5 linked regions of the Homo sapiens genome follow. The protein of the gene in region 3 interacts with the protein of the main gene of each other region in a pairwise test. Each region holds a gene or a part of one and is shown on either strand. Other genes may lie near its edges. The genes, in order: SECISBP2L, RBM12B, SASH1, AKAP10 and OAS2.

Region 1 (4,189 bases), on a different chromosome or scaffold from region 3:
TTATATACCAAGCAACACATATTCTTAGAATATTTAACTCTGGCAGTTAAAATTAAGCTAGCTATTTTGATTAAATACAGAGAATACTCTATAAAAAGTGCTGAAAGAGGATACTCCTAAGATTTTCTTCTAGTTATAACATTCTTTCAAATAATCATTATTGCAATTAAGATTATCCATCTAGCACTGTATTCCCAGTAAGTTACTTTTTACAATCTTGATCAGCACACATACAATTTACCTTTTCTATAAAAAGATTTTATATATTAAAAAAAGGTAATTCACAAGAACAAGAACATGAATGCCTTCAGGCAAAAAAAAAGCGTTTTTTTTTTAAAGTTACACTTGTAAAGTACACAAGGATTTAATTAGGTTAAGATAAAATGCAGAAAGTCTATATTAAGTACTACTTTTTAAAAACCAAACTTCTATGAATTGCTAACTACCACAATACTATAATGAGTAAGTTTTAATGCTGTAGGCATCTAGAGAAATTCTGAGTATGTCAACACTGGTCTAAAGGGAAAAAAACATTCTGTGAGGAAAAATGGAAATTGACACATATTACATATACTTTTCAATGACGTCAATCTACCTAAATTCACTTCAATAGTAGAAATACAAAAGTATAATCCAAATATCCTGGAAAAGCCATTACATGACTCTATGGCATAAAGAATCAAGAATTCCACAAAATTGAGAAATCTCAGTTCCCAATCTACTATTAAGTTAATGGTTCTTAGCCGTCCTTTGAGAATACGATGAAAATAATGGATTCTTGCCCTAGAAAAAGGCATATAAAGAAGCATACTCCTTCTAGGTCATTCATGGACCCCTGAATTAACTGCCTATCGCATAAATGAGGTGAAGACATCACTTTTCTATATATATTTTCTGAGTGTATAGGGAAGTGGAGGATTTTCAAATTATTCTTTCATTTAGGGTTAGGCTGGGGAAGAGGCAAGAAGTACTGGAAGAAAAAAAAGTCAACAGAAAACCTTCTTCCATGTTTTTTTCCTAGTTCTTAAATTTCTACAAGGTTTTAATAGGTCGTGGACTTTGGAAAGATGTGGAAAGGGGAAAAGGCTCTCTAGTTTAAATAATTTGCTCACAGCACTTGCTGCTAGGATAATCACAAACAGCTATGCTAAAAATTACCATCTAAATAGTTAATTATATTTCCTCTAGGATGAAAGGAACTCTAAGTATACATAAGGTAGCATTACTGGTTTTAGTCCTGGCATCCTAGTGAAGGAACAAAATGTTGAACCCTTTCATTAGTAACACACATACAAGGAAATGATTCAAGGAAAATTCGTATTCATTTGTCAGGCTTTGAAATCTCAGGTATTTATGATAGATACCTTCAAAAATGTTTTTAAATTAAACTAGATACAGGCTGTATACAGAATACTTCTGGGTCACATAAATGCCTAAGTGTATTTGCCAAGAGACTCTGTATCAATTTCTCTTTGGTAATTCCATGTATTGTTTTATAAAACTCATTTGTGTCTTCAGAGTTACATTCACATAAAGCTTTTTTTTAAAAAAAAAAGTCTTCTGTAAAAACAAGTATACACAACTAGGAAGCTGTGCTTTGCCTGCTAAGAGTCCGATTTCAAAATACAAACCGGCTTCAACTACATATAGACACATACAGGAATTTGGGAAATCTTATCTCATTAATTCAGGTGCTAATTATCCAACTGTAAAATTAATAGGCAGAAATTACTAGCCTCTCTTCTTCCGTCATCTAGTCATCAATGGGCAAGGCCTTCGAAGAAGGGAATAGAGAGTGAATAAACTTGGACTTCAAATTAAGTCGTTTCGCAGAGATCTTAAGAGTGGAAAATACTGGGGGGGAAACTATTGTTTTCGATTACTTTTAACACTGTTATCATCCCTGCCTGCTACCACCTACTAGCATGCATAATCAGGAATTTGATGCAAATAAAAATAAAACAGAACACTAATAGGACTACTTTGCGAATATGAAAACGGGTTCGAAAATAAGCTTATGCTTTACACCCTTAAAATAGAGCTAGCTTTAAAAAAAAACCCACTAATTACAATTCTTTGCAAAATAACTGGATAAAAGGACAAGGGGAAATCGTAGTATCGTTTCTTAAAAGAAACACCTCCGTAAAACCACTGCAAAAACAATGCTTCGCTCCATTGAACACAGACCTAAAAGGCCCGTGACTTCCCTTCATCTGTAGTTACCACACATTCTCTTACAGTCTTTCTGGGTGAGAAGCCTTCAAACGCCTTTCCACCTTGAAAACACATTCCAGAGCTGAAGGGAATGGGGGAAGCGGGGAGACTACTAGAAGTTATAAGCCCTCCTCCCAGGAGAGCAGGGACAACTTGGAGCCTTCTGACCCCTTCACCAAGCAGGGGAGAAGCGGCAACGGCGAGCCCTCCGCCTGGGAAGTAATCAGGGTTGGAAAAGCCCCCAAGTCCCAGGCAGCAGCTGGAACAATGAAGGAGAGCTGGGAGCTGCCAGGCTCCCAGGTGAGGGGGTCTGCGGCCGCAGGACCGGCCCCCGGTCCCCACGTTCGGAGAACTGGGCCTGGCCTGTGAGGAAGCGGCGACCCCAACCCCCGGCTCGGCGGGCCCAGCCCAAACCCGCGTACCTGCTCCGTGGGGGCTCGGTCCATGGTGCCTGCAGCCGCAACGGGCCCGCGCTAGTCGGTGTAAACAGCGCCTCGGGCCGCTTTCTCCATGGCCCCCCGCTCGGGTCCAGACTGGGTTCCGGACCTCCGCCCCTATCTGGCTGGCCGCGACACCGATTCGGCTACGCCACTGGCCGAGGAGGCGGCTCCAGCTCCGGGAGATGGAGGAGGCGGTGGCAGCTTCGGGGAGGGATCATCTGGGACGGAAGCCGAGGAGGGCCCGAATGGGCTGGAGGCGTAGTTAGAAATGGAGGCGCACGGAAGGAAAAGGAGTGGGGAGGAGGCAGAGAGGGGCAGTGGGCGGAGTGACAGCAAATGGCCTCAGCAAGGGTAGGAGGAACCCGGCCTGGCCTGGAGGCTAAGGCCAGGTGGAGGCGCCCAGGAGCAGGTGCCCCGAACCACACGCCACCCCTGCGACTGTTAAACGAGAAGTGTCAGACCACTTGGGACCCAGGTCTCCCGGGACTTCAAAGACCTCTTCAGGATCTGAAACCACCTCTTAGTGATGTTGGAAAAGCTTTCATCTGCCCACCGTACATCTGCTCCTTCCTTATGTTACGCAAATAAAGGGAGTCATGACTATAAAGGAATGAGAATATTCTGAAAATAATGGAGTCTTGCCCTAGAAAAATGCATATGTAAAACGCATACACAGAATGACTGGAAGAGGCCCGCTAGGAAGCTCCCCACAAATATTTATTGAGAGTTAATTCATTATCCAGGTTCATGCCCACTTCTAGGCTCACATCCAGGCTGACCTCGCCCATCTCAGAAATCCTAATTTTATGCAGGATCTGTATAACACCACCCAACGGGTAATTATTTTATCTTCAGATCCTTAGCTCCTTAAGGGCAGAGACTGTCTTGAAACTGGGCACTACCGTTAGCATGGCAAATTTCTTCTGGGCATCTCCTCAGACACACCCTCCAACACCCACACCCTCTGTGAAGATTCAACCAACTGCGGATAGAAATATTTTGAGGAAAAAAGAAATATCAAGTACAACAATAAAATACAAGTAATACAGTTTAACAACTGCTTATACAGCATTTACATTGTATTAGGTATTATAAGTAATCTAGAGATGATTTAAAGTATATCGGAGGATATGCATGGATTGTATGCAAATACTACACCATTTTATATAAGGATCTTTAGCACTCATGGATTTTGGTATCAGCAGGGATCCTGGAGCCAATATCCCCCCTGGGATACTTAGGGACAACTGTATAAGCTAAATTACACTTAAGTGAAGGTAGAGTTGAGGTGGCTGCTGTTTGGGGCACTGGTGTGGAGATCCACAGCTAGGAATGGGAAAGAGATTTTAAGAAATTTGCTTTGTCATGCTTCAGGAGATATCAGTAAAGACTAATTGCCTTTTCAGTTAGTCTAGGTTATTAGTCTGGTTATTAGACTCCAATATGAGGCTTGTTATGTGAAGGCCCCTTGCTGTACTTATGTTGATACAGGTTGGGTATCTCTAATGGAAACTATGAAATTCCAAACCCTCTTG
Region 2 (3,630 bases), on a different chromosome or scaffold from region 3:
ATAAAAAATTTAGCCAGACAAGGTGGCACACACCTGTAGTCCCAGCTCTCAGGAGGCTGAGGCAGGAAGACAGCTTGAGCCCAGGAGTTAGAAGCTGCAGTGAACCATTATCAGACCACTGCACTCCAGCCTGGCCAGCAGAACAAGACTCTGACTCTTAAAATAATAAAACTACAAAGCTTATGTTTACTCTAGCTGGCCTCTTATCTACCACCACCATCCCACCTCAGCCCAGTTTGAAATGCAATTCCACAGTAAGTAATCCCTCACGTTAAGCTTCATCTTAGCTTTATTCCTTTGTATCTGAGAAGCATTTTTTAACTTTCCATATATTATTCAAAATGGGTGACCAAATGAACCATCTATACAATCTTTGCTCAATTAAAAATATCATTTCTACTTTCTTCATTGTGCTTGGTTTGGATATTCCAAACAATCAATTTAACATTATCCTAGCTACTTACAAGCTTATACTTTAAAGAATCATACTGAGGTGCTTTTTCATATCAAATTTACCTGTTTATTCATTCCATAGCAAGCAGGATATTCACTATTTAAAACAAATTTAAGCAGATTTCTGTTAGATTTCTTTAAATCACTGAAAAGTAACACAAAAATACATATAGGTAGTAACTAAGTACTGACAAAGTATTCTACCTATGCAATATCCTATTAAATGTCTAAATTACCATATGTAAATTTAATTGTATTATTTACTCAATGGGGAAAATCTGGATTACAGAACTGAGGAAAATTATGTTTTATGTAAATTATAAAAGGCCAAAGTCAATCATGTTGAATAAAATAATTTTGAAATATAAGCCAGTAATATACCATATGAGTATCCCAAGAGAAACCCTGGATAGAAAGAAACTTTTAAAGTCACTCTTTTTTTTTTTATTAGTAATGTTAATGTTTGAGCTCAGTGTTTGAGCATGCTGGTTTTACCTATTTATGCTAATTTTAAACCAACAATTGAAGTGAGAAAATAATCATTTATCCTTGAAAGTATCTTTAGCATGGTCTTCCTAATTAAAAATACCACTTAAAAAAGTGAGGCAGCAAAAGCATGAACTGGAGTCAGTGGTCTGTCTGGGTTAAAATTGGCCCCACGATTTACTACCTATGACTTCAAGCAAGTTGCTTAACCTCGCACTTCATCCCACTTCATTATCTCATTTGTGAAATAGAGGTAAATAATTAACCCTGTACTCACAGGGAATACCGAGATTATGCATGTAAAGTGCTTACAGTGCCTAGCACATAGTAAGTGCCTAATAAATGTTAGCCATAAATATTATTGTGGGTATAGAAAATCAAATTCCCTAGTTGCAAAATGTATGCACTAAATGCTGAATATCAAAGAAGTCAAAATTCAACCACACAAGTCTTAACAGTTATAGAGTCTTTGCATGGACACAGTTTCGAAGCTAAAAAATGAGAACCTAATATTACATGCAAGTTATGTGACTCATCAGTAAATTCTTCCTAGAAAAACAAACTATACCACTTGTCAGATTCTTCCAGCATAAGCCTGAGTCCCCTTGCACCTATAATTAGATTCTTATTTTACTATCTTTTGCGTATCTTGTATTAATTTTACTTGGTTGATAAGATGTTGAAGAAACCATGGAATTATACACAGCACTATACATTATTACTATAGAATGTCTGGTCCCTCCCATCATAAATATGGTTTAATGAAGTTATTGAAAAACTTCACAATATCGAGCTGCAATTCTTTTTTCTTTTTATACAAATACAAGTTAATTAGCTCTATTAAGTTGCAATTTTATTTTTATAAAGCTTTGTAAAGTTATGAACATGGAAACCCTAAGAATCACCTAAGCTTTTTACATAAGTAAATTTCAAGTTGACAGTCTGTCCATTTTGAACTATTTATAATTAACAGGACACTTAACACAGTAATATCTTAGACAAGGAAGAGGGCATTAATTCTGCAGGCAGGTAGCAATGAAAATGCCAAACCTGAACAATCAGTCACTATTTCCTTATACAGTTTGAGTAAAAGAGGTAGACTACAGAAAGAAAAAAAAAAGTGAATATAAAATGTATCTTCCCCAAATACAACTCTACTTCAATAAGTCTTGAAGATTACCGATGACATCAACAAAAATGAATGAACTCAGGGAATGAGTTCTTTCTCCCCATCAAAGAAAAAAACAGCATGTGTAATTTTAAATTTGAAAAAAAAAAAGAATGGCAATTTGCAAGCAAAAGAAAACCAGATTCACATTCTACTATTTACATTTGTTCTATTCACAGGTCAAAAATAAAATATTTCATTAGATAATTTAAAAAAAAAACACTTTTTTAAAACAAATGTATTTTACTCCATCAATACTGCAAGGAAGATAACTGAATTTAGAAATGCTCTCTCTCTACAGCAAAGTTAACTTAACTTTTCGGGGCCCAACTGGCCTATCATTTAGATCTTTAATAGCAGCCATAGCTTCATTATAGTTTATCATAGCAACAATGGCTTCCCCTGTAGGTAAGCCTTGCTCATTATACTGTATCGAAACTGAATCAGGTATGATTCTGTAACCATGGAAAAAGTCTAAAATTTCATTCACATTAGCTTTAAATGGAAGATTCATTATCTTAATAGGAGTTACTCTACCTGAACCACAATTTATTTTTGGATCAGGCATAAATCTCCCCTCAGGAAAACTTCCCATATTATGCTTTCCAAAATCAAACTTGCCACCTTCTGGGCGACCAAAATTCACAAAAGGGCGGTGACTTCTAAAATCATCAGGCGGGCTCCTAAAATCCTCACCAGGAGGTCTAAAATTGTCAGGAAGTCTAGGGTCCTCCTCCGGAGCTTCCCTAAGGTCTTCCTCTGGGAGCTGCCTGAAGTCCTCATCAGAAGGGCATCTAAAATCTTCCTCCTGGGGGCTCCTGAAGTCCTCATCAGGAGGGTGCCTAAAGTCTTCATCAGGAGGGCCCCTGAAGTCTTCATCTGGTGGGTGCCTGAAATCTTCCTCTCGGGAGCGCCTGAAATGCTCCTGAGGCGGCCGCCTGAAATGCTCCTGGGGCGGTCTCCGGAAGTGCTCCGGGGGCGGGCGCCTGAAATGCTCTGGGGGTGGCCGCCTGAAGTGCTCTGGGGGTGGCCGCCGGAAGTGCTCTGGGGGAGGCCGCCTAAAATGCTCTGGAGGTGGTCTCCGGAAATGCTCTGGGGGTGGCCGACGGAAATGCTCCTGAGGTGGCCTCCGGAAATGCTCCTGGGGTGACTGCCTGAAGTCCTCCTCAGGGGAATGCCTGAAATCCTCCTCTGGGGGCCGCCTGAAGTCATCCTCGGGTGGTCGCCTCCATTCTCCCTGAAGAGGCCGCCTAAAGTCCTCCTCTGGGGGCCGTCTCCAGTCCTCCTCAGGTGGCCGCCTGAAATCTTCCTCTGGGAGCCACCTTAAGTCCTCCTCAGGGGGTTGCCTGAAGTCCTCCTCGGGGAGCTGCCTGAAGTCCTCCGTGGGAGACCGCCTGAAATCCTCCTCCAGTGGCCGCCTCCAGTCCTCCTCAAGGGGCCTCCTCCAGTCCTCCTCCCTAGGGTGCCTGAAGTCATCCTCCGGAGGGCGCCTGAAATCTTCCTCCCAAGGGCGCCTGAAGTCC
Region 3 (3,630 bases):
CATGGTGGCAGATGCCTGTAATCCCAGCCACTTGGGAGGCTGAGGCAGGAGAATTGCTTGAACCTGGAAGGTTGAGGGTTGCAGTGAGCCGAGATCGCGCCACTGTAACTCCAGCCTGGGCAACAGAGTTTGACTCACTCAAAAAAAAAAAAAAAAAAAAAAAAAAAAAGAAAGAAAGAAGAAAGAATGAAATAAAAAAGTTACTTTTCCAAAACACAGACGCAAGTAGTCCCATGCCCAATGGCCTCTTTCACCGGTGCCCACAAACCTTATCCAGCAACATCAGCACCCAGATCTGGGAGATCTGTGCCCTTCCACCTTTGTCCCTCTTTGCTCTGTGGGGAAGGGCCCACCTCGCACCTTCCTTTTTATCCCTCTCACTAGAAAAGACCTCTCTGGGAACTCCTACTTATCCCTCAGGGCCCAAATCCAAAGGTATGTCTGGTAGGGGCCGCCCAGACGCTCCTGGGTTGCTGATCCTGAGTGAAGGGATCCTACCGCCTTCGGGGCGCTCTGCCCACTGCCCTGTGAGGTTGGGTATATACTCAGCGACCGTGGGGCTGAGGCTTTTGCAGCAAAACTAACCTTTTGTAGAATTCAAGGGCAAGTATCGCTAATAGCTCAATAGCTTAAACAAACAAAAATTAGCAGCCAATAAACGTCTGAAGAAGATGTGTGAAAGAATGAACTATACACAGTTGCAAATGGAAGTCAGTTTCAGGGAAATACATGATCCAACTCTCAGCTTCCCCATCTACTATCTGCATGACTTAGGACACAGACGTTTACATCTGAACTGTAAAATGAGGGCAAGAATACTCACTGACCACACCTCCTACAAGGATCAAGTAAGGAAATGTATGCGCAAGATCCAGCACAGCCCCAGGACTCTACACAGGAGCACTGCCTCTCACTCCGTCCCCATAGAGCTGCATGCAAAGGACCTCAGTAAGAAGCCAGGTGGCAGAGGGAAGGGTTGTATGGCTGAGCAAAAGAAAGACAAGGTAGAGAACAGCAAATAAAGGCAGAAAGGCAGGAGAAGGGAATCATGGAAGAAGGTCACTTAAGCTTAAGGGGTCTCCTTTAGCAGGAAAAGATTCGGCAACCCCAACCAAAATTATCAAAGCCGGCCAGGCGCAGTGGCTCACGCCTGTAATCCCAGCACTTTGGGAGACCGAGGTGGGTGGATCACTTGTGGCCAGGGATTTGAGACCAGCCTAAACCCTGTCTCTACTAAAAATACAAAAATTAGCCAGGTGTGGTGGCAGACGCCTGTAATCCCAGCTACTTGGGAGGCTGAGGCAGGAGAATCGCTTGAACTCGGGAGGCAGAGGTTGCAGTGACCGGAGATTGCACCACTGCACTCCAGCCTGGGAGACAGAGTGAGACTCCTTCTCAAAAATAAATAAATAAACAAATAAATAAATAAAATTATGAAAGCCATTGACTTAGTCTTTGCCAAAGAAGTGAACATCCAGACGCCTGAGTTCTGCCTCCTCTCTGTTACCCTGAGTAAGTCTTTTACACCTGGAAGCCCTCCAAACCCTTCTCTCTAAATGAGAGTTGAGGGTGCATTTCCAAGGGCGCTTCAATCCCTTCCAGTACATAACCCTGCAACTTCTCCACATAGAGAGGCCACAAGGCTTTCTTCAGTGGGCTAAAAGGAACATCATAAAATTAAGGTGAAGTCAGAATATTTGAAATGTGCTTGACTCTCAAATTCCAAGACGTAAAATTAATTAAGTCATTAGCTGATAGGCACAACTCTAGACACCTCCCAAGAGAACATGTAAATTAACTGCTTTCAAAGGAGTTAGCATTTTAAAAGCCCCCTCAGGATCTCACTAACATCTCCCCGCCCCACACTGGGCCTAAAACAACAAAGGAAAAGAGGGAGACATTTTGTTTGTTTGTTTTAGGGGTTTTCTTGTTAATTTTTTAGGAATGGAGTAAATAGTAAGATAGGATGAATATAGCAGTTCTGTGGACTGATGCCTGCCTTTCTGTAGCTTGCACAGGAATTAGAGTAGGGGAAGGTTCGGAGTATCTCTATACAATGGATATTTTTTAAACATGCTGGGAAATGGGTGTAAATTGTAGAAACAGAGCAAAAACAGAGGAAATTTCAGGTTTGGGGGAGGTGCATCTTGCAGGATCCTGCAAACAATAGGCACTTACTAACCCCCTTCCCAGTTAACAAGTAGATTTAAAGGCTTCTAAGGCTTTGCCTTAGAAGTCCTCAAATCCTGTAGGCAGAAGCTGAAGAACCATCACAATTTACCAAATGGATAAATCAGTTCTGAAAAAAGGATCTACCACACCTAACTGTATCAACAACCTTAGCAATTCCCGCTCTTAAAAACAACTTCCCTCCCCTACCTAAAAAAAGGAATGCCGTGTCTGCCAACTATGGAGTAAAGAAAAAAGGGTAAAATTCCACAGGATTCTAACTCAGTTTTGCACTTCTCAATAGAAGTCTACACATGTCACAGGGAGAAGTGACATGCTTTGAAAACCCTGGCCTACCACATGTCGTGGTGTTAGTGAACAGAATGGCACATTTCACAAGAACGCCAAGGTTTAATAGCTCAGGGCTTATAAACATGTTGCAGTTTACCATTAGTTTCCAGTGGAAGCACTGGGATTTTAATTTGCACGATGAAACTGCCCAAAATGCAGTTTCAGCCAGAGCAGAATGTATTCACATCTTTATAAATGTAACCCATTACATTACAGCAGGCACATGTGTCTTGACAGAACAATGCTTTGATGTGACTCCTGCATTTAAGAAATACATACTTTTCCCCTTTTTCTTTCAACAAAGCCATGTTCTCAGCACCCAGTTAAGTCAGGAGCACTGGAGATAGAAAAATGAGTAAGACACTGACCCTGCCCTCCAGGCACTCACAATCTAGTTAATTTTTTTTTTTTTTTGCAAGCTTGTTTTCTCTTAATTCTATATCCATTTATATATTCACTTATTAGCATTTATTTATTCTAGTACTGCTCAAACATTTTCATGCCGTAAATTATACTATTATTTCTTTTCTAAATGAGCACTTTGTTAACAATTATCTGAAAGCAACTATTTGGTGCTTAACTGTGCATGGACTGAATTAATCTAAATGCAAAATGTGTCCTAATGAACTCAAACAACCATCCTGTATTTACTGAGATCCATGACTCTGGGGCAATACTTTCACTGGGTTATAACCAACAAAATCCCCTGGGGGACAACTGCTCAATATTGCTCATTCACCTAAAAATGTTTTCACTTACTAAGCTGTGAGTTTTGTCATTTCAAAGTTCCACATACAGTATTGATAAGCTGTGTGGTTTGATTTCCACAATTAGAATAATCTGAAAAAGTAAGGTAGAACTGTGTCTGAAATCTGTTAAGGATAATGTTCAGATGTGTAATTTCCCAACTACCTCTACTGTCCTCTTCAAGTTCAGTACGGAAAAAGAATCTTGTAAGTCACATTTTACCTAAAACACACAGGATTTCTAAATGTACTGAACTACATTTCTACTGAATTCATCTGAGAGTTAACTATGGAGCGTCATGACATCAGGATCCCTACTGGAGGGGCCAGCGACCAGGGACAAGTCTAACATTGTCACTAACAT
Region 4 (3,630 bases), on a different chromosome or scaffold from region 3:
GAGGCCAGTTCGAGATCAACCTGTACAGCATAGAGAGACTCCATCTCTACAAAAAGAAAAAATAAATAGCTGGGTGTTGTGAGTTATTCAGGAGGCTGAAGCAGAAAGATCACTTGAGCCCAGGAGTTTGAGGCTGCAGTAAGCTATGATCCCACCACTGCAACACAGTGAGATCTTGTCTCAAAAAAAAAAAAAAATCATTCTAGGTGCTTTTTGGAGGCTGGATGTGGTAAGAGTAGAAGCTGGAGATGGTCCTGTTAGGGATTCGATTCAGACTTTAAATACCATCAATGCATTGAGTCCCAAATTTACATCACTACGTTGGATCCTTGCCCCTGAATCCAGACTGGTATATCCAACTTTAGGTTCAGTTTGTATCTCTACCTGACCAATATAGAGGTGTCCAGTCTTTTGGCTTCCCTAGGCCACATTGGAAGAAGAATTGTCTTGAGCCACACATAGAGTACACTAACGCTAACAATAGCAGATGAGCTAAAAAAAAATCGCAAAACTTATAATGTTTTAAGAAAGTTTACGAATTTGTGTTGGGCACATTCAGAGCCATCCTGGGCCGCGGGATGGACAAGCTTAATCCAGTAGATACCTTCAACTTACAATATCTAAAATTTTATGCCAGATTTAGTCATTTTAAACCTGCTCATCAGTTTTTCTCAAGAAGTAGTATTTTGGCTTTTTTTCTTTTCTTTTTTTTGAGATGGAGTTTCGCTCTTATCGTTCAAGCTGGAGTGCAGTGGCGGATCTTGGCTCACTGCAACCTCCGCCTCCTGGGTTCAAGTGATTCTCCTGCCTCAGCCTCGCAAGTAGCTGGAATTACAGGCATGCGCCACCATGACCAGCTAATTTTTGGAGACAGGGTTTCACCATGTTGGTCAGGCTGGTTTTGTACTCCTGACCTCAGGTGATCTGCCTGCCTCGGCCTCCCAAAGGCTGGGATTACAGGCATGAGCCACCGCTCCCGGCTGCATTTTTGGATTTTTAGTTGCTCAGCCCAAAACTTTAGTACATCTTTGAACCTCTTCTTTCCTCCTACTCTATATCTGATCCATCAGCAAATCTGTTAGGTCTACCTCACACATATCGAAATCCTACCACGTCTCACCATCTGTGACAATTAACACCCTGGTCTAGGCAGTCATCTCTGTTAAGATTGAGTGGTTAAGGATGTCCTCTAAGGAGATGACATTCAAATCTTAGCTTAAATGTCAAGAGGGAGCTGGTTTTATAAAGATTGAGGAGGCAGCATTATTTTGCCATAGGCTTCCATTTGGTTTCCATTCCATTCTTGATACTTATGGTATATATTCAAAACAAATGCACAGAAACAGACCCAGGTATATTGGGAATTTCGGATATAGAGTTCCTAGTTGGGAAAAGATAGACTGATCTGTAAATGATGCTAGTTATCCATCATCTGGCAAAAAATAATTTCCTGCCTCCTCTCATATATCTCAGATCAACAGACTTTTTCTGTTAAGGGCCAAATCATAAATATTTTAGGCTTTCCAGACCATATGGTTTCTGTCACACTCTCCTTTATCCTTGAAGCCATAGACAATATGTAAACAAATGGGCATGGCTGTGCTACGATAAAACTTTACTTACAAAAACTGGTAGTGGGCCAGTTTAGGCATGGCCAGCACTTTGGGAGGCTAAGGCAGATGGATCACTTGGGGTCAGGAGTTTGAGACCAGCCTGGCCAACATGGTGAAACCCTGTCTCTACTAAAAATACAAAAAATAGCTGGGCATGGTGGTGGGTGTCTATAATTCCAGCTACTCTGGAGGCTAAGACACAAGAATCACTTGAACCCAGGAGGCAGAGGTTGCAGTGAGCTGAGATAGCACCACTGCACTCCAGCCAGGGTGACGGAGTCTTAAAGCAAAACAAAACAAAAGGTAGTGGGTTGTATTTGGCCCATGGGCTGTAGTTTGCCAATCCCTGATGCAGAAACAAATTCCAGGTAAATAAGAGCCTGGAATGTTAAAAAAACAAAACTTGAAGTCATGTAGAAGAACAGGTAGGGGGAACAATCCTGATCTCAGGATAGGAAGGGATATTGCTTAAAATAAGACACAGGAAAATATAATCCATGTTGTGTAAATTTGACTACGTTAAAACTTAAAACTTTCGCCAAGCGCGGTGGCTCACGCCTGTAATACCAGTACTTTGGGAGGCCGAGGTGAGCAGATCACCAGGTCAGGAGATTGAGACCATCCTGGCTAACACGGTGAAACCCCGTCTCTACTAAAAATACAAAACATTAGCCGGGCGTGGTGGCGGGCGCCTGTAGTCCCAGCTACTTGGGAGGCTGAGGCAGGAGAATGGCCTGAACCCGGGAGGCGAAGCTTGCAGTGAGCTGAGATCGCGCCACTGCACTCCAGCCTGGGCGACAGAGTGAGATTCCGTCTCAAAAAAACAAAACAAAACAAAGCAAAAAACCTAAAACTTTCATACAATAAAGTATACCTAAGATACTTCTAGAAGAGAAGATTTACATCCAGGACGTGTATGGAATTTCTGCAAGTAATAAGTAAAAGACAAGGGACATGAAGAGGCAGTTCACAAAAGAGGAAGCCAAAATGACCAATAAACATGAAAGGATGTTTAACCTCAAAGGAAACAAGGAAATGAATTAAAAACATCAAATGCCATTTCAAAACTAGTAAGTTGGCAAAATTAAAAATACCAAGGATGAGAATATGAAGCATGGCTATATGAGTGCATGGAATGGTACAGTCACTTTCATTAAAAATGCACATAATTTGTTTTTTATTTATTTTTTTGAGACAGTCTATGTCGCCCAGGCTAGAATGCAGTGGCATGATCTCGGCTCACCACAATCTCTGCCTCCTGGGTTCAAGCAATTCTCCTGCCTCAGCCTCCTGAGTAGCTGGGATTACAGGCACATGCCACAACGCCCGGTTAAGTTTTGTATTTTTAGTAGAGACAGGGTTTTGCCATGTTGGCCAGGCTGGTCTCGAACTCCTGACCTCAGGTGAGCTGCTTCCCAAAGTGCTGGGATTAGAGGCGTGAGCCAATGCTCCTGGCTGAAAAAAATGCACATAATTTGTTACCTAGCAATTCCATGTCTAGAGGCTTATCCTAGAGAAATTCTTGCTTATATGCATAGGAAGACGTGTACTAGAATGTTCACTAGTTGAATGTTTAAGTGAAAATTAGGAAATAAAGTAAATGTTCATTAACAGGAAAATGAGTAAAGGTATATTTATAAAACAATTAAGTAGCTAAAATGAATAAACTAGAGCTGCGTGAATGAACTAGAACTGGTTCAATAGTCATGTCAGATTATTGAATGAATACAGGTCAGATATGTATAGAGTGTCATTTGTGTAATTAATTTTTTTTTTTTTTTTGAGATGGAGTCTCACTCTGTTGCCCAGGCTGGAGTGCAGTGGCGTGATCTCAGCTCACTGCAACCTCCACCTCCTGGGTTAAAGTGATTCTCCTGCCTCAGCCTCCCGAGTAGTTGGGATTACAGGCATGCACCACCATGCCCAGCTCATTTTCCTATTTTTAGTGGCCACAGGGTTTCACCATGTTGGCCAGGCTGGTCTTGAACTCCTGACCTCAAGTGTTCCACCCAACTTG
Region 5 (2,835 bases), on a different chromosome or scaffold from region 3:
TTAAGGGATTTAGGGCTATGTGTTCCAGTTCCTCCAGCCAAGCCCTGTGAGGATGGGGACAGCGTCTCACAGTTTCTGCTTCCGTGTTTCCTGCCTATGTATCTAGTGCAAGTTTGGGCATCCAGAAGGCCCTGGTAACTAGTTGTAGACTGAGTAGATGTGTACTTAAAGTGGTCATTCTTTCATTAAATGTTTTTTATCATTTAAAAAACTTTTTAAAAATTATTTTTGCCTTTTCTTCTCATGCTTGTTTCCTGTATTCTTCCATTTTTCAACATCTTCATATATATTTCTTTTGCCTGCATCCTGGACAAGAGTAGTGGTGCATTCCAACACCTAATCTGTGACACCAGCTGACTGTCCTGCAATTTAAGTCAAGTCTGGCACTGACTACCTGGAATGTGTGTAGATCCCACAATTTAAAGAGCAAGGTCCTCACCAAGTCCACCCTTCTTTCAGACTCCAGCCATACATGGGGTCCCCAGGCTACCCACACCTCTGTCCGACTTGGTTACAAACTTGGGAGTTTCCATGACTTTCCTTCAGTTTTGATAATTTGCAGAATGACTCATAGAACTCAGGAAAATGCTCTACTTACAATCACCATTTTATTATAAAGAATACAAATGAAGAGCCAGACAAAGAGTATGTAGGGTGGCAAGCACTGGAAGGGCCCAGAGCTCAGGAGCCTTTGTCCCTGTGGAATCAAGATGCGCTACCTTCCTAGTACATTGGAATGTCTGCCAATCAGGAAGCTCCCCAAGCCTCACTGTCCAGAGTTTTTATTGGGGTTTCTTTACATAGGCAGCATTGCTTAAATCACTGGCCATGTTAAAATTGAACTCAATTTCCAGCCCCATCACCTCCTTGGAGATTGGGGGTGGGATGGGGCTGAAAATTCCAATGCTTTAACCACATGCTTGGTCTTTCTGGCTTGGCCAACTCCTTCCTTGAAACTAAGGGCCCACCATGGGTAACCTTGTTAGCATAAACCCAGGCATGGGTGAAAAGGGCTTGTTATGAATACAAAAGACACTCCTATCAGGAAACTCTAGAATTTTTGAAGCTGTGTGCTAGGAACTAGGCACAAAATCCAGATACATTCTTTATTGTATCACAACTGGTATATGCAACAGTGATAAAAGTTTAAGTGAGGGTATGTGAGGTTAAAGCACCTAGACCTTCAAGTATCTTTAAGGCTAAAGCCCAAGGAAAAAGTCTTTTGATTTGGCAAGAGGATACTCCTGGGTGGGGGGGAGAAAGGCAGGCTCAGAAGGAAAAGACAACAGCCTCATATAAATATGACAACAGTTATAATCTGAGCCTTTGGAGAGCTTGAAGTTCTAATGAAAGGGTTGGCTGGCTGCTGGCATAGAGGATGTCTGTGTCAGCAGGGGCAGAAAGGGTTTTGTATACAGAGGAAACAGACAGGACGTGGATGAGTTGGAAGCACCGAGAGCAAGATCACAGAGTTATGAGAACCAAGGGGAAAGTAAAGAGCTTTGCTTTGAAGACACAGAGGATTCCTTTTTTAGACTGGAAGGAAAAAGGAGGAGCTAATTGGAAAAATACAAGAAAAAAAATACAAGTTGACAGAAATAAGATGCACATAAAGTGGATGACAGCAACTATTTTTAAAGGCAGGCTGCCTGCAGAGAGGGAGTTCAGCAAGGCAAGACTTTATGAAAGGGTTTGCAGTCTTGATTGATTTCAAGAAGTCCAAGAAGCAAGGGAAGGAGGAATAGGGACCATCAAGGGAAGAATGGATGTGAGTGACTCTTTCTCACGGTGAGCCGAGTCTTTAAAAGCGATTGCCAGATGATCTCTAGAAGTTTCTTTTAGAATTATTATTCAGGATTCTATGGCTTCTGGATGAGAACATCTCATTGACAATAGGATGGATCCTAGCTCCACAACTTCCTGGTGTCTGCATTGTCTAAAAAGAAAAACATACGTGGGAGAGCAATGTCTCCTAATAGTTACAATCATTGCTTAAAAGAGTTAGGGGAAAAAAGGGGGGACCTGTATCTGGGAAGGTAACTATTGCCAGAGACAATTTTTTGGTATTTATTTATAATGCATATCTTAATAATTAGAGCTAACCCCACGGTTGGCTTGGCCACCTCTTCCCTACATTCCCCCCAGGGTTGGGGTGTAGGGTTCCTCTAGTGCAAGGGTTCTCACCTAGGGCAGAAGACACATGATAAAGTCTCAAGACACTTTTAATTGTCACAACTGGGTGGCATCTACTGGGTACAGGCCAGAGATGCTGCTCAACATCCTACAATGCACAAGAGAGCCTCCAAACAAAGAACTGTCTAGCCCCAAATGTGAGTAAGTATCAAAGTTGAGAAATCCTGCTTTAAAGAAAGAACCTGGTGGAGAGAACCAAGTATATCTGGAGGGAGGATATCCTGGTGGAATATATCAGGTATATCTTGGTAGGTAGGGAGGGCTTTGGAGAGGTGTGGCAGACATCCTTGGGTGGCCAGTGCAACCCACGTCCACAGTCATCTTTGTAGCCACCTTCAAGTTACAGGTAGCCACATGACATTTCTGAGCAATGAAATGGAAGAAAATTTGCGGATGAAACTTCTAATAAAATCACTGTGTTCTTGACCTTTGGGTATCTTTTCCTTCTTCCTGCTTGGATTGCAAACCTGCCATCTGGAGGCACCGTGGCCGCTTTCAGGGCCATAAGTACTCAAATTAACAGCTAAAGAGGGTGGAGCCAAAAGCCAAAGGCAGAAAGATCTGTGAACCCAGGGGAACGTTTGACAATGTCTGAAGACTTTTGGTTGTCACTGGGAGAGGAGGGCTAGTGGCATCTACTGG

What was found.
Region 1: the proteins of SASH1 (region 3) and SECISBP2L interact in a two-hybrid assay, tested with the Homo sapiens proteins (one large-scale study listed by BioGRID).
Region 2: the proteins of SASH1 (region 3) and RBM12B interact in a two-hybrid assay, tested with the Homo sapiens proteins (one large-scale study listed by BioGRID).
Region 4: the proteins of SASH1 (region 3) and AKAP10 interact in a two-hybrid assay, tested with the Homo sapiens proteins (one large-scale study listed by BioGRID).
Region 5: the proteins of SASH1 (region 3) and OAS2 interact in a two-hybrid assay, tested with the Homo sapiens proteins (one large-scale study listed by BioGRID).

What each region holds. Positions count from the first base shown.
Region 1 is NC_000015.10:49,043,640-49,047,828, forward strand, and holds the start of SECISBP2L (selenocysteine insertion sequence-binding protein 2-like), read right to left. Parts: upstream 2,808-4,189; 5' UTR 2,661-2,807; coding exon 2,637-2,660; intron 1-2,636. UniProt on the Homo sapiens protein: Binds SECIS (Sec insertion sequence) elements present on selenocysteine (Sec) protein mRNAs, but does not promote Sec incorporation into selenoproteins in vitro.
Region 2 is NC_000008.11:93,731,003-93,734,632, forward strand, and holds part of RBM12B (RNA-binding protein 12B), read right to left. Parts: coding exon 2,403-3,630; 3' UTR 1-2,402.
Region 3 is NC_000006.12:148,345,792-148,349,421, reverse strand, and holds part of SASH1 (SAM and SH3 domain-containing protein 1), read right to left. Parts: intron 1-3,630. UniProt on the Homo sapiens protein: Is a positive regulator of NF-kappa-B signaling downstream of TLR4 activation. It acts as a scaffold molecule to assemble a molecular complex that includes TRAF6, MAP3K7, CHUK and IKBKB, thereby facilitating NF-kappa-B signaling activation.
Region 4 is NC_000017.11:19,971,274-19,974,903, reverse strand, and holds part of AKAP10 (A-kinase anchor protein 10, mitochondrial isoform 1 precursor), read left to right. Parts: intron 1-3,630. UniProt on the Homo sapiens protein: Differentially targeted protein that binds to type I and II regulatory subunits of protein kinase A and anchors them to the mitochondria or the plasma membrane.
Region 5 is NC_000012.12:113,009,475-113,012,309, reverse strand, and holds the end of OAS2 (2'-5'-oligoadenylate synthase 2), read right to left. Parts: 3' UTR 1,937-2,835; coding exon of another isoform or gene 1,826-1,936; 3' UTR 587-1,825; downstream 1-586.